Regions from separate parts of the Homo sapiens genome. Here region 2 is linked to region 1. Evidence: fine-mapped expression QTL. A gene starts in region 1. The other region holds a variant in brackets. All regions are shown on one strand. Distances are between the middles of the regions. Region 1 holds the start of TSC2 (TSC complex subunit 2). Region 2 overlaps TSC2 (TSC complex subunit 2).

What was found. PIP is the estimated chance that this variant, and not a neighbour inherited with it, causes the effect.
Region 2: its variant is fine-mapped to the expression of TSC2 in tibial nerve (GTEx, PIP above 0.99).

What each region holds. Positions count from the first base shown.
Region 1 is chr16:2,044,621-2,052,620 of GRCh38, reverse strand. It overlaps TSC2 (TSC complex subunit 2), which reads right to left and starts at 4,636. Exons shown (of 42, transcript NM_000548.5): 1 at 4,556-4,636; 2 at 3,868-4,034; 3 at 2,135-2,221. The coding sequence starts at 4,005. NTHL1 (nth like DNA glycosylase 1) reads left to right here and starts at 4,787. Exons shown (of 6, transcript NM_002528.7): 1 at 4,787-4,912; 2 at 6,255-6,493; 3 at 7,821-7,991. The coding sequence starts at 4,798. RefSeq lists a silencer at 4,373-4,602 and enhancers at 4,693-4,782, 5,233-5,292, 4,884-5,383.
Region 2 is chr16:2,075,539-2,083,538 of GRCh38, reverse strand. TSC2 (TSC complex subunit 2) reads right to left here. Exons shown (of 42, transcript NM_000548.5): 23 at 7,647-7,740; 24 at 7,369-7,471; 25 at 6,954-7,048; 26 at 5,813-5,941; 27 at 4,343-4,507; 28 at 4,111-4,263; 29 at 3,870-3,982; 30 at 3,162-3,374; 31 at 1,741-1,944; 32 at 1,035-1,103. Among named protein-coding and RNA genes, the nearest start is that of MIR1225, 11 kb to the left of the region's middle. RefSeq lists an enhancer at 4,408-5,117. The variant G/C (reference allele first, on the strand shown) is at 4,926.

The DNA of each region.
Region 1 (8,000 bases):
GGCCGTGTTCTGGCCAAGTGCGGTGGCTCACACCTGTAATCTCAGCACTTCGGGTGGCAGAGGGGAGAGGGTCACGTCAGCCCAGGAGTTTCAGACTAGCCTGGGCAACACAGTGAGACCCTGTCACGACAAAAAATACAAAACTTAGCCAGGCGTGGTGCTGCATGCCTGTAGTCCCAGCTACTTGAGAGGCTAAAGTAGGAGGATCACGTGAGCCTGGCAGGTTGAGGCTGTAGTGAGCCATGATTGTGACACTGCACCCCGGCCTGGGTGACAGAGTGAGACCTTGTCTCTAACCAAATAATAACAAAATGGCCGTGTTCTTTTAGATGTCATCTGACCAACATCCCAACCAATTCAGACAACTGGCACTCTCACCTCCTTTGTCTCATTGACAATACTCTTACCGTTGCAACCTGAGCTGCAAAGATCCGTGGACACAGGGCCCGGGACCATCCCAGCCTCGGAGGCCTATTTATCCACTCACAGGCTGCCCCGTACCCACACAAACAACTTTCAGAACAGGATGCAGGACGCTTGTTCTTTTTTTTGTTTTCTGAGACAGTCTTGCTCTGTTGCCCAGGCTGCAGTGCAATGGCACAATCTCAGCTCACCACAACCTCTGCCTCCTGAGTTTAAGCGATTCTCCTCCCTCAGCCTCCCAAGTAGCTGGGATTACAGGTGCCCGACACCATGCCCAGCTAATTTTTGTATCTTTAGTAGAAACAGGGTTTTGCCACATTGGCCAGGCGGGTCTCGAACTCCTCACCTCAGGTGATCCATCCACCTTGGCCTCCCAAAGTGCTGGGATTACAGGCGTGAACCACTGCGCCCGGCTAAGGACACCTGTTCTTTACACCTATCTTTGGTAGCGTACGGCCAGCACGTTTCAGATGAGCTGCTGCAGAGGTAGCAATCACTCTCCTCTTAGCAGATCTGAGCATGAGAGGTCCAGGTCTCACTGCTCTCCCACACACAAATGCTGGGCAAGGCAAGGGCAGAGCCCTCAGGTGCTCTACCAGCAACCTGCACTCCCAAAATGACCACTTCCTGTCCTGTCCACAAGTCATCAGGAAAGTCTGGCAATGTTTGCCCAAAATAAATATTTCTATGTCCGTGAGGTCGCCCAATACCACCGACCAGTCACCCTCCCAAAATGGCACCAAGACCAGCGTGCCTAGGATTGTTCTCTGTGGAACAAACCCTTTCTTGATTTTTCTTGGCCTGAACTTGTAACAGGAGAGAGCGAGTGAGCATGCGTTTCTATCAGCCACTACAAACTCTTCCTTTTTTTTTTTTTTGAGACAGAGTCTTGCTCCGTCACCCAGACTGGAGTGCAGTGGGGCGATCTCGGCTCACTGCAACCTGTGCCTCCCGGGTTCAAGCGATTCTCCTGCCTCAGCCTCCCAAGTAGCTGGGATTACAGGCATGTGCCACCATGCCCGGCTCATCATCTTTTAGTACAGACGGGGTTTCGCCATGTTGGCCAGAGTGGTCTTGAACTCCTGACCTCGTGATCCACCCACCTCGGCCTCCCAAAGTCCTAGGATTACAGGCATAAGCCCCCGCACCCCCGCTCGGCATAGAAATCCTTTCTGGTGTTGCTAGAAAAGCCTAATCCCTTTGCTCCCCATTTCCACGCTTGATTGGTCCCTCAAGGTTGTATTCGGGGCATTTCCAGTAGCTTCCCCATCACTACGATGAAAGCTAAATTCCCCTAAAACAGTGCAAACTGGCTGGGCGCAGTGGCTCACGCCTGTAATCCCAGCACTTTGGGAGGCTGAGGCATATGGTTCACGAGGTCAGGAGTTCAAGACCAGCCTGGCCAACATGGCGAAACCCCGTCTCTACTAAAAATACAAAAAGCCGGGTGTGGTGGCGCGTGCCTGTAATCCCAGCTACTCAGGAGGCTGAGGCAGGAGAACTGCTTGAACCCAGGAGGCAGAGGCTGCAGTGAGCCAAGATTGTGCCAGCCTGGGCGACAGAGCAAGACTCCATCTCAAAAAAAAAAAAAAAAAAAAAGTGCAAACCAGATCATCGGCAGTCAGCTGTCAACCATGTTCCTAAAAAAAGCAAACTCAGGCTCTGAATAGTCTACGTGCCTCTCTCTAGTAGCTCAACTGGATAAACCTACCTCTTCAAATTTCTTGGTTTTTGCGACTTCACAAATCTGCCCTATCATCCGGATGCGATTGTTGAGGCCACATTCCATGCTCAGTTCCTGGAGAGAGATGAAAGAAGAAAAAGGGGCCAGTGCTCAGGCCACGGTCTCCTTAACTGCAAGTCACAAACCACCTAAAGACTCCCACTGCATTTTCCAGACTAGAGACTTAAAACAGATCTTTCTGGAATCAAGATTCACTTGACGAGCCGCGGTGGCTCAGGCCTGTAATCCCTGCACTTTGGGGGGCCAAGGCAGGTGGATCACCAGAGGTCAGGAGTTTGAGACCAGCCTGCCCAACATGATGAAACCCTGTCTCTACTAAAAATACAAAAAATTTGCTGGGCGTGGTGGTGGGCGTCTATAATCCCAGCTACTCGGGAGAGTGAGGCAGGAGAATCCCTTGAACCCAGGAGGCGGAGATTGCAGTGAGCCGAGATCGCGCCCCTGCGCTCCAGCCTGGGTGACAAGAGCGAAACTCGGTCTCAAAAAAAAAAAAAAAAAAAGATTTACTGAGGGGCTTTACTGCTCCATCCCGAGGAGTTGAGAATGTGCAATTTTTTTTCACAACTGCAAATGTTGTATTGAGATAAAACATAACATGAAATACAATTTCAAACTGCACAATTTTTTTTTAGACGGAGTTTTGCTCTTCTTCCCCAGGATGGAGTGCAGTGGCGCGATCACGGCTCACTGAAACCTCCGCCTCCCGGGTTCAAGCAATTCTCGTCTCAGCCCCCCGAGTAGCTGGAATTACAGGCGCCCACCACTATGACCGGCTAATTTTTGGTATTTTTAGTAGAGACGGGGTTTCGCCATGTTGGCCAGGCTGGTCTCAAACTCCTGACCTCAGGTGATCCACCCGCCTCGGCCTCCCAAAGTGCTGGGATGACAGGCGTGAGCCACCGCACCCAGCCAGGATGGACTATATTTTATTCATCAGTTGATGAACGTTTTAGTTGTTTCTAAGTAGAAAACTTTACAAGTGCAAAAATTCAGCATTTACTCATGGGCAAAACACAATGCCAGGCATGTGTGACAAAGACACAAACACACATAAAAGATAACGACCTAGCCCATGTGCGATGGCTCATGCCTGTAATCCCAGCACTTTGGGAGGCCAAAGCGGGCAGATCACCTGAGGTCAGCAGTTCAAGACCAGCCTGGCCAAGATAGTGAAACTCCATCTCTACTAAAAATACAAAAATTAAATGGGTGTGGTGGCACGTGTCTGTAGTCCCAGCTACTCAGGAGGCTGAGGCAGGAGAACCACTTGAAACTGGGAGGCAGAGGTAGCAGCGAGCAGAGATTGTGCCACTGCACTCCAGCCTAGGCAACAGAGCAAGACTCAGTCTCAAAAAAAAAATAAAATAAAGAACCTACTTCTCCCAGGAACTCACATCTTATCATGTAACACCTGGACATATCCTTACCTGTGAAGATGATGATACTCAGGCCTCATCTATAAGATGGGCTTTCTTTCATCAACATCTGAATAGTAACTCAAGTGTGCCTGAACCAGGTCACCAAGATCCTGACTTTCGAAGTCTCCTGAGGAAGGACATGTCGGCCTCCAAGTACTGGAGACAGCATTCCTGTGTAGACAGTTGCCAGCAACCCGTCTCCCACAGAACCTGGTGCAAGACCAAACCCAGCCTTCTCTGCATTTCCCTCTAGCCTAGCAAAGACACAGGTAGCTCACTCACTCTCAGTATTTCCGCGGTGATGATAAACTCCGTCTGTTTACCCTCTGCAGACCTGGGATTTGGCCTCGGTGTTCCCAGTCCCAACAGAATCTTAAACTTCTCCTTCAAGCCTGAATCTTTGCTTGTTGGTTTGGCCATGGTGGACCAGGACGCACCAGAAAACCCCTCTGTGCAAACGAAACAGGAATGGGGACATCTGAGCAACACCTCTGCCCACCTTCCCCACTGCGGACCTCCAGCCGTCAGGACCCTGGGTCTCTGGTGGGCATAACCTTTCCTCCCACACTCCCTGGGAGAACTCAACTACAGCCCAGCTGACCAGCTCGCAAACAGGCACCTAGGAAAGCCCGGGAGACACCAGGCCTGGTCTAGAGAGCTCTCTACTCAGACGCTGCCGCCCGCCCCGCCCGACTCAGTGCACGGGTTAGGACTGCCGCCGCGAAGTCCTGGGAGCCCCGACGTTTGCCGTCTCTCCTCTACCCATGTGAAGCAGGAGCTGTCACGGAGCCGCCTGCAGCAGAGACCCGTTCGCACCCGCCATGACTTAAAACTAAGGGATGCTCGGAGCTCCGGAGTCGGGTTGCAGTGGGCGCGGGTGAGGGCCCGGGACCCGGACACTGCGGGGTCCGCCTCTCTAGGCCGCTGCCCCGTGGGGACCGCCACTTGCCCCGTGGGGACCGCCACTTACCCCGCGCCGCGCCACCGCGCTCCGGGCCGCCCCGACGCGGAGAAAGGCGCACCCCCCTGGCCCCGGGACGCCGCCGGAAGCGCGACCCGCACTTCCGGTAGCGGCATTGCGCGGAGGGCCGCCTTGGGAGCTTGCTGGGAGTTGTAGTTCTGTGCCGCCCTCTGGCGGAAAGGCCGGCGATCCTTGCATCACGTGACGGGGCCGCATGGGCCGCCGGGATGTGTAGTCCGCAGGAGTCCGGCATGACCGCCTTGAGCGCGAGGATGCTGACCCGGAGCCGGAGCCTGGGACCCGGGGCTGGGCCGCGGGGGTGTAGGGAGGAGCCCGGGCCTCTCCGGAGAAGAGAGGCTGCAGCAGGTAGCGCCGCGCCGTGGCTGGAGCGTGGGAGGAGGCGGGATAGGGGCTGCAGGCTGGAGTCCCGGGCCGCCTCCTGCGGCTCCCAGCTGCGCGGGCAGGGGCTGCAAACCCGGCAGCCGCGAACGGTTCCCACGTGCGGCCCTGCGTTCCCACCTTGCGCCTTTTTCCCAAAGATTGCGGTCCGCAGGGGCTGGGTTTCGGGCGCTCCGCTCCGCTGCCCCCTTTCGCCCCAAGCAAGAAAACGCTTCCTTTCCCACCACTCTGTCCGGGACTCTCCACTCCAGGCTCTGTGGGTCCCATCCCCGCCCTCCTGCAGTGAACTTGCTGTCCTCGGAGAGGCTGGGTGCCAAGGACACACGCAGCCAGAAGCCTGCTCCCCCAGCTCGGGGGAGGGTGCCTCTGAGGGAAAACAGGAAAGGGCATGGCACTTATTATATTTATCCTGCAGCCGTTGAGGACCTGCTGGGGGCCAAGCACTGCAGTGAGCAGTGAGGGACACGGACAGGGCCTCTGCGCTAGTCCCGCTGGGACTTCTGCAGAATTGGCCAGAGCTGGATTCCCATAGGCACCCAGGGACCCCAGGGGTAGTCCAGACTATGTCAGGAGGAACTGGTGCAGCTGGGAGCAGGCAGGTGGTGATGCCAGCCAGGGTGGCAGGAGCTTTGATGCCAGGATAGAGTTTGGAGTTTATTATGACAGTAAACGGAAGTCAATTAGGAGGTTTTGTTGTTTGTTTTGAGATCGGGTCTTGCTCTGTCACCCAGGCTGTAGTGGAGTGTTGTGATCTCAGCTCACTGCAACCTCCGCCCCCCAGGTTCAAGCAGTTCTCCTGCCTCAGCCTCCCAAGTAGCTGAGACTATAGGCCCCTGCCACCACACCCGGCTAACTTTTGTATTTTTAGTAGAGATGGGGTTTTGCCATATTGGCCAGGCTGGTCTTGAACTCCTGACCTCAAGTGATCCACCCACCTCGGCCTCCCAAAGTGCTGGGATTACAGGCTTGATCCACCGCGCCCGGCCGGCCAGGATTTTTTAAAAGGGAGTGACACAACCTGATGTGGGTGTTAGCAGACTGTCTCTGGTGCAGTATAGAAGATGTATTGGGGGCACCTTGGTACAGGCTGTTGCTAGAGTCCTCATGAGCTAACATGGACCTTGTCAGGGTCGCTGGCATAAGGAGGGCCCACATACCCCAGACTGCAGAGGGCAGAGCACCCCAAGTGTATTAGATGATGGACAGTTGTGGCATGAACGAGTGAGGGGTGAGCTAGCAGGCGGGATGGCACCCCTACCCTACCTTCACCTGTGGCCCCACCAGAGGGACTGCGTGGTGCTTTTTGCAGAAGCGAGGAAAAGCCACAGCCCCGTGAAGCGTCCGCGGAAAGCACAGAGACTGCGTGTGGCCTATGAGGGCTCGGACAGTGAGAAAGGTGAGGGGGCTGAGCCCCTCAAGGTGCCAGTCTGGGAGCCCCAGGACTGGCAGCAACAGCTGGTCAACATCCGTGCCATGAGGAACAAAAAGGATGCACCTGTGGACCATCTGGGGACTGAGCACTGCTATGACTCCAGTGCCCCCCCAAAGGTAGGCAGGGGCCCCATCTGCCCAGATGACCCCCCATCTTAGCAAGGTCCTTGTTTTCTTTCTACCCGGTGGCTTTTGGCTGGCACCCTCCCCTGCAGACAGCACCTTGGGAGGATGGACACCCGGTGCCCCAGAGCATCGCCTGCATCACTGTAGCCACTCAGCAGGTCAGGACACCAGTGGTTTAGGGCCTCGTGCTCGAACTTCTGCCCAGTGCAGGCGTGACCTGGGCTTTGTGTGATATCAGGAAGGAAGAGTTCCTTTTGCTTCACGGTCCCAGGGCCTGAAACCCTTAGACCAAGCTGAGTTCTAATCCCTATTCTGCTACCAGGTGGCTTGGATACAGGCCTCTCTGAGCCTCAGTTTGCTTGTCTGTAAAATGGGTAGTATGGGCCAGGCATGGTGGTTCAGGCCTGTAATCCCAGCACTTCGGGAGGCCAAGGCGGGTGGATCACCTGAGGTCAGGAGTTCGAGACCAGCCTGGCCAATGTGGCGAAACCACGTCTCTACTAAAAATACAAAAATTAGCCAGGTGTGGTGGCAGGCACCTGTAACCCCAGCTACTTAGGAGGGCGAGGCAGGAAAATCGCTTGAACCCCGGAGGCGGAGGTTGCAGTGAGCCAAGATGGCACCACCACACTTCAGCCTGGGTGAAAGAGTGATACTGCATCTCAAAAAAAAAAATTTGTTTTAAAGGGTAGTGTGATGATTCACGAAGCAATCATAATAGTAGTGGCCAATGGCTGTTCAGTAGTGATGGGCCAGATACGATCGTGTTGGGTTTTTTTTTGAGACCAAGTCTTGCTCTTGTTGCCCAGGCTGGAGTGCAGTGGTGAAATCTTAGCTCACTGCAACCTTCGCCTCCGAGGTTCAAATTATTCTCCTGCCTCGGCCTCCCGAGTAGCTGGGATTACAGGCATGCACCACCGCACCCAGCTAATGTTTGTATTTTTAGTAGAGACGGGGTTTCACCACGTTGATCAGGCTGGTCTCAAACTCCTGACTTCAGGTGATCCGCCTGCCTTGGCCTCCCGAAGTGCTGGGATGACGGGTGCGAGCCACCACGCCCGGCCACATACGATTCTAAGCACTGAGATAATTCATTTAAGCTTCACATTACTCCAGTGAGTCAGGTACTATTATTGTCCTGGTGTTGTAGATGACCAAACATACCCAAACCAGACCTCCCCACCCCACAGGGGGAGGCTGATGCCTCAAGTGTGGCCCAGGGCAACAAACCAGGGTGTGTCGAGGGCGGGGGGCGGAGCCTGGCCAGGGAATCACCCAGGACCCGCCGCCACCCCGGTCCCTGTCACTGCACAAGCAGGTACGCAGGTACCAGGTGCTGCTGTCACTGATGCTCTCCAGCCAAACCAAAGACCAGGTGACGGCGGGCGCCATGCAGCGACTGCGGGCGCGGGGCCTGACGGTGGACAGCATCCTGCAGACAGATGATGCCACGCTGGGCAAGCTCATCTACCCCGTCGGTTTCTGGAGGGTGAGCCCT
Region 2 (8,000 bases), 31 kb before region 1:
GGAGGACGCTGGGAAGGCCTGCACGTGACCCCGACACAGGCCTCTCCTGCATGAGTGCCCGGGGGTTGGGCAGGCAATCGGCTCTGCCCACCCTAGTGTCCACCAGCAGCCACCCCTGTGCCTCCAGGTAGGCAGGGGCAAGACGCTCTCCGCCCGACGGGCCTCAGCTCTAAAAGAGCGGGAGCCTGAAACCAGCCCTCGTAACCGAGGAGAGCTGCGGAGACTCCGTGACGTGGGGGAAGTCCCTGTTTGCAAACAGACTGCTCCCAAGAGCAGAGGCTCACCCTCCAACTCCAAGCCAGACCCACAGCTGGGGACGCTAAGGAGAGAGGGTGGGAGGTCCCAAAGCAGCATTTCCTGTGCCAGCGTCAGGACAGGGGGAGAGGAAGTAGAAGCAGCAACAGAGGGGACCATCACAGCCCCCGGGCGCCCCACAGCCCTGCACACGCGCAGTCAGCCACCCCAGGGCCCGTCCCACGCAGCCCTTCCAAACCAGCTCGTCTGCACGTGGAGACCTGGCAGGGGAGCACCATGCAGGTCACAGCACTCCCCACCAGGGCTTGGGGGCAACAGGCAGAGGTCGGTCTGCAGGGCCCCTGGTCAACCTGGGACTTGAGGCAGCCCCATCTGTGGGTTCCAGAGGCCAGGGGAGCCACCAAAGGCCAGGGCAAGGCCCGCTCGGTGCAGGCCCAGGGGTGGGCTTCCCCCTAAACAGCTGCCACCCATCAGAGTCTGCAGCTCAGCTGATGTCACCATGGAGACTCAGGCCACCCCCACCCCTCAGGCCTGAAGCTGGGCCGGGAGTGCTCGCACAGCGTGGGAACAGGGCTCAGCCACAAAGGGACCAAGTCAAGGGGATCCCGCTGGCCAAGCCAAAGACATTCTGCACAGACGTCCTCATGCGAGTCGGGACCTGCTCCCCAGGGCAATGGAGGCAGACGGACCATGGGGGTGGGCGGATGAGGCGACGAGCACAGCACCTATGAGGCAGAGTGGCGCTCTGCAGCCAACCGCTTCCCTCTGAGAGGCGATACCTGCCCAGGAAACGCTCCTGTGCAGCTGTCCTTGGCAGCTGGACTGGTACAGGGAGGAGAAAGAGGCCACTGCAAGGGAAGGCCGTGTGCGGCCACGTCAGCAGGAGGAGGGGCTACACACAGGTCGAGCAGAGAGCACAGGCCCCGTGCCTGCAGAGGAGAGAGGGCAGGGCCAGCGGCCGGCAGGGGCGCGCACGGGGCCCAGTGCTAGCTACAAGCTGCTTGGGCAGACCTGAGGAGGGCAGTGCCTCCCTCCTCCCGTGAATAGACGTCCTAGGCCGCTAAGTGCCATCTGCAGCCACAGGGAAGAGCCAGAGGGCCTGGCGAGAAGCACGGTGCCGAGTGGGGTGGGGGCCCAGAGTGCGCAGGCGGGCTCAGGTGTCCAAACCTGGGCCCAGGCAGGGAGGGAGGCTGCCGCAGAGCCTCCTGGAGCCCGCAGTGCTGGACTCCCCACGGAGGATGCTGGGCAGAGGCTCCACAGGGCCCCTACTGCTTCTGAAGCTGCCAGCCCCAGCTTCCTGAGCAGGGCAGACACCTCCCACGGGTCAGCCTCCTCCCAAACACCGGAGAACAATGGTGCTGAGGCAGGCCAGGGACCACTCCCAGCCGTGTGGGCGCCCTCAGCAGAGAGGAGCCACATTGCCGTCACCGGGAGCACCAGGCCAGTGGGAGCAGAGCCCGTGCCAAGGCCCGCCATGCCACTCACCTGTGTTGGAGCGAGGCAGAGGAGGGGGTTTGGCCGTGCTGGCTGCCGGCACCGACAGTGACTTGTACAGGGCTGTGTCCCGGTGCTCCTTGAAGCGCTCAGCCGCCATGAGGGCGTTAGACAGCTCCTGCAGGGGCATGTTGTTGATGTCCGAGGAGAAAGGGCTGAGCGGGTTCTCCAGGCTCATCAGCCAGCTGGTGTTCCCTGCGGAGGCGGCAGCACCTTTGGCCTGAGGCCAGTACCTCCCCTTACCCATCTCTGGCCCCCCAGGGGCCTCCTGGCCTGGGCCCTGGTTTTGCCCTCATGCTCCCTCCCACAATCCTCAGGACCACGATGTCGGAGCCAGCGCTGCTCTGACGGCCACCCACCCTGCTGCCCCGCTCAGCCCCTGCCTCGAGGCCAGGCTCCGCCAGGCACCTCAGAGCAGCGGCCTCCAGCCCACAGCCTCACAGTCCGGACCCAAGGCCTCCACGAGGGCTGGAACCCCTACTCTTTGCACCCCTCAGCCACGGCACACCCAGGCGCCCCTGGGCTCTGGGCCTCTGCAAAGGCCTCCCTCTGTCCCTGGGCTCTGGGCCTCTGCGGGGGCTCCCTCTGCCCCTGGGAACAGGCTGAGCTGTGCCCCCATGTTGGTATGCTTTAGTCCCAACCCCAGGAACTCAGAACGGGACTGTCTCTGGAGACTGGGTTTCAGAAAGCTAATTACGGCTAGCAAGGGACCAGAGCGGACCCTAAGCCATGACCGGTTTCCTCCCAAGAGGAGATTAACACGCAGACATCCAGGAAAGAGCCTGTGAGGACACAGGGAAAAAACCAACTGCATGCCAAGGATTGAGGCCTCTGAGGAGCACCTCCTGCCGAGGAGCACCTTGGTCTCGGACTTGCAGCCTCCAGGCGGGGAGGGCAACTCTCTGCCATGGAAGTCACTTGGTTCGCCACAGGCCCCTGCCCCACCTCAGCCACCTGGATCGCCCCTCACAGCTCACCTCTGGAGACTTACAAGTTACCCCCAAATGGCTGGGCGCGGTGGCTCACGCCTGTAATCCCAGCACTTTGGGAGGCCAAGGCGGGCGGATCACGAGGTCAGGAGATTGAGACCATCCTGGCTAACACAGTGAAACCCCATCTCTACTAGAAATACAAAAAAATTGGCCAGGCGTGGTGGCGGGCGCCTGTGGTCCCAGCTACTCGGGAGGCTGAGGCAGGAGAATGGCGTGAACCCGGGAGGTGGAGCTTGCAGTGAGCCGAGATTGCGCCACTGCGTTCCAGCGTGGGCCACAGAGCAAGACTCTGTCTCAAAAAAAAAACAAAAGTTACCCCCAAATATCCCAAGAGGGCCAAGTCTGCAATCGCCCCTGAGTGTCCACAGCTCTGTGGGTGACTGGCAGAAAGATGGCGCTCAGGCCAGCCCCGCCCAGTACCTGTGGGCCTCCGGACCAGGATCTCCGCCCAGCCCTGGGTCAGCAGGGGCACATAGGCCGCCAGGTTCGTCTTCTCCTGCACAGGAACCCGGGTGCCAGCTGAGGCCTTCTCAGGTTTCGCGGCTGGTGCAGTCCGTGGTCCTGGAGAAGTGGCACTGCCCAGGAACTGGGAGGCCGGCACGTCCAGGGCGCCAACTCGAAGACCATGGCCCCCTGAAGAAGAGGGCAGAGGACTGGTGACCACCACTTACCTGATGCAAAACCACCAGCCTCAAGCTGAATGCTCCCCCCGAGCCTGGCAAGCTAGTGCCACAGGCAGCCAGAGACGGTGGCAGCTCTGCCCTTGGGGCACGGCCCACCACAGTGCTGGCCTCAGTGAACCCAGGGCCACAGGGAGGGACCCAGAACCTGTCCTGCAGTCAGACCACGGCTCGCTGGAGCAGAGAAGGGCTCCAGGACTGAGCCGAGCTGAAAACCCGCAGGAAACACCAGCACCCAGAGCAGGCCCCTCTGCAGCAAGCGGGCCACACTCCACCACTCCACGGCTCTGGGGTGAGCTGTGGAAGGCTCACCCCAGAGTCAGGACGTGGGCCGGGCCTGAAGCCAGCCACCCCGGCCCCTGGGCTCGGGGCCTTCCTGAACACTGGGACCAGCAGCAACTGAGGGAGCCCCGGTGCCTGTGTGGAGGTGGCTGGGGCCAAGGCTCACCCGACATGGAACGGACCCGATCCCGGGCCCCACGGGACACCTGCTGCCCAGCCTGGGACTCCAGCTTGGCCGGCGCCTCCTTGGTCTGTCTCACATGCACCCCGGGGCTGGAGCTGAGAAGAGAATCCCACGCACAGGGTGGACTTAGTCCCCAGGCTGGTACGAGGGTGCCACGTGGGCCTGGGCTCGGGACAGCCGGTGTCGAGGCTGGCAGGCGCGGAGGAAAGGAAGGTGCAGTCACCTCGACTCCGGGCCGGACTGCAGCTCCCCCGAGTCCAGGCCTAGTAACGACCGGGTCCCGGTTCCCACGCTTGTCGTCACAGTGACAAGCTTGTTCCCAACCAGCCAGGTTTTGGTCCTGCCACCCGCTAGGAGGAACTCGCCCACAGGAGACCTAGAAGACAGGGAGCGTGAAACCCAGCTTGCCCGTGGAGCTCCCGCAGGCCCGCCCAGCCCTGTAGTGCCGCCTGGACCTCTTCGGGACAGCCGTGAAGTTGGAGAAGACGTATCGAGCCATCATGTCCAGACAGGTTTCCGTGAGCTCCAGGTGGAGGTTTTTCAGGCTATCGTCAGCCTGGGCCACGGAGTTCTCATCTGCAGACCCCAAGCTGGCACTGGTGAGGGACGTCTGTATCCTGCTGGAGGGAGAGGCCGTGACCAGGGTCAGGGTGCCAGGTAGGGCGGGCCGAGCCACCTATCACCAAGGGCCAAAGCTCAACGCATGCACGGCTGAGGACCTCGCTCGGAAAGACCCCAACAGGGCGTGGGCGGCCCAGCGAGCCTCAGCTTGAGAATCACGTGGACCACATTGTCCCAGAGAACGGGGAGACGCTGGGTGGGGAAGACCAGGCCTACTGGTCGGAGCAGACTCAGGAGGCTAGAGACCGACATCCCCCTCACCGAAGCCCACGGGAGCACTAGGTTACGGCCTCCTGGCGAAACGGTGTAGTCATGCAGAGAGGCGGAGGCCACACAGACAGGCCCAGATTGCATTCTGCCCGCAGGCTGCCTCCGGCAAGCACACAGAGGTCTGGGATCCCCATGTGGCCTTCCACC[G/C]TCACCCTCAGGCAGGCGAGCGGCTGCCTGAGCTCCACACCCAGTGACAGGGAAGAGGCTTATGGGAGTTCATTCTGATACAAATTTCATAGCCCCTAGGCAATATTTTGCTCATGATACAGAATGTGCTAGAAAATGGCTTTAAGCCTCACCGAGCACCTCTACCACCCCAACCCCTGGCCAAGTCCCACCCAGCAGAGGCCGGCCTGAGGTGAGGAGGTGGATGGACTGAGGGCCATGGGACCCCTTGGCCTGCAACGGGCTTCCAGGAGGAGACAGGTATCCCCTCTGCCAGTGCCAGCAGCGATGACCCACAGGCAGGTGACAGCCGAGAGCCCGAGAGCCCACACCTGCACCCAGACACTGCGGGGAGAACTAAGACCATGGCCTGGGGCCCAGGCCCATGCCCATGCCCTGCAGGATCCTAGCCCCCACCCAGGCCCTCCCAGGCTGCCCCACCCCAGCACCCTCCACAAATGCCCCTTGTTCCCTTTCAGCTACAACAAAAAATAAACCTTGTTGAGAAGAAAGCCCGAAGAAAAACGTCCATTCTAGAGAATACGAAAAGGCCAAAACCAGGAGTGGTGTCTCCCCCAACCCACACTGCGGCCCTTGGGGACAGCCTGGGGAGGCTGCTGCCCGGCACGCCTGGCTCTCTCGGAGCGGCACCCCGAGGGGGCCTGGGGATGCGTGCAACCAGCCCGTGCTCATACGGGGCCTGGGGACAGAATGCAACCTTTCCACCCCTCGTCACCGGCTCCCCCTGGGCTGGCCAGGGAGGACACGGGCAGACGATGAGGTCATGCAAGCAGCCCCATGCACTGCCACCCAGGTGCTCACGGGGCCAAGCTCCAGGGTCCGTGCCCCCCACCCGACAGTCCCGCTACCTGCGGACCACATGTTCAGACACACTGATGCTGCGGCACCGGAAGGCCTCGGCTGCAGAGCTCTCCTTGAATTCTTTCACGGGTGGAGAGTTATTCAAGCCTTGTTTGGGGGGTCTGGCTATCCTCAGACTATCGGGTGAGGAAGGAGCCCCAACGCCCCAGAGAGCCCAGCTCCCGGGAAGGGGAGAACAAGCCAGTGGAGGGGTGAGGAGGAAAGGTCCCAGGCCACAGGGTCAGGATGGAGAGATCCCGCGGGTGAGATGAGCAAAAAGAGCCATGCCAAAGGGCAGTTAGCGGGGAAGAGACAGAAAACAAAAATGCATGATAATACGTCTGGTAAACATGACTGAGAACAAGTAAGGCTTCACGCATGACACCAAAACAAACAACGTCAGTGCAAATTAAACGTGTGTGGGTCACCCCCACGGCAGATTCCAGGCTGTGCTGGCCAGGCAATCCCACCCACCCGCGGAAGGCAGGCACCGCCCAGCTCTGACCGAGGCGGCACTGAGGCCTCAGTGGCCAGGCCCTGAAGGTCACTAGGAAAAGAGACCAAGACCCCAGAAAGTAGTCTCTGGCCGTAATGGCCGAGCTTGGCCCCCGGCCCCCAGGGGCTGGAGACAACAGCTTCCGAGTTGAGGTCACGCTGGAAAATGCCGTATTCCCATCTAGGGAAAGCCAAAATAGCTCGGGCAGGAAGGTGGGGGACAGGAGGAGAAAGCCGTTCAAATGAAATGCAAACAAGAACACAGAGGCTGGCTCAGCTCTTTGCGGTCCGGCAAGGCGGCGGTGATGAAGCAGAGTCCCCGGCTAGCAGCAGGCTGGGGGCTGCAGAGGAGGGGGCAGCCCCAGACAAGGCCGGCTCCTTCGAGGGGCTCAGGCGCCTAAAGCTTGCACCCCAACCCCCAATTCCACAAGTAGGTGCCCGTGGCACACGCAGCCCGGACCCAGGCCACCACGGCCAACCTGCTGAGGGGCTGAGGGGTGTTAGCGGCCCTTGCAGGTCCTGCCCTGCCTCACATACTCCAGGGCACACAGGACCCATTTCCACTCACTGACTTGGAGGCACCGTCAGGCAGGCCACAGCCCCATGTCCTTCCCCACCCCACACCGACTCCAGGCACACCCCCGCAGGCCGTACCTCTTGGGTCTCTCGTTGAGACTAGTACTCCGGGCCCTGAAGCTGTCCTTCTCGGGGGTGTCATCAAAAGACAAGAGGACATTGGACCGCAGGCCCTGGCAGAGTGAGCACACCCAGACAGTGAGGGGTGGCAATGGGGGCTGGAGGCCCTCACCAGGCCTGCCGGGTGCCCCCTGGCCAGGGACAAGCTGCAGGCTAGGGGCAAGGCGGCGGCACCCAGCTCCCACCCCTCAATGCCTGCCGCGCATCAAAGCCCTGCAGGCTGCCCAGCAGAGCCCCCAGCGCCACAGGCACAGCCCCAAACACCCTCCCACTGCCCTCCACCTGCCTGTCACTCTGCCCGACCATGGACAGCCAAGGGCAAAGCAAGCCCTGGCCTACCGAGAGACACAGCCTTCACCGGCCCTGAGCCCACCTTAGTGATGAAAGGGACAAAATCCTTCCGGAAGGGCAGGCGGCACCTGATGAACCACATGGCTATGACGTGATGGGCCAGACACACGATGTACTGATTAAACCTGAGATGAGAAGGGGGCTGGCACTCCATCCTGGCAGCAGGGAAACATCCCCAGGGCATGAAGTGCAAAAAACCGAGGCGCTCAGGCCTTGGGGACAAAGGCTGCCGGGGCTTTCTGCCGCAAGGCCTAGCGGGGGCCACGGCTGGGAGGCACAGGGCCTGGGGCGACCACTCACTTGGAGGGGTTGGTGTACGGCAGGGAGATGGCGAACACACTGGCATACTGCTCCGCGGCAAAGTTCCTGTAGAGGTGCGGCAGCCTGGCCAGAGCTGCGGTAATGGAGAGGGTGGTCAGGGGAGCCGGGGTCCCGTGCAGCGCCTCTGAAGGCCAACACGGCTGCTCTGCCCACGGCAGCGATGGGGTGCTGCAGAGGAGAGAAGGCCACGGCCACACGGACGTGGCTTTCCCGACCCTGGCCTCAACTCTCGGTCCCATGGCCAGCCAACCACAGCTTCTGGGCCAATTCGAGCTGTCGCCTACCATTTGTGTGATCCGTGAGGAAAGGCTTCCGCACCTCTTTTTTTTTTTT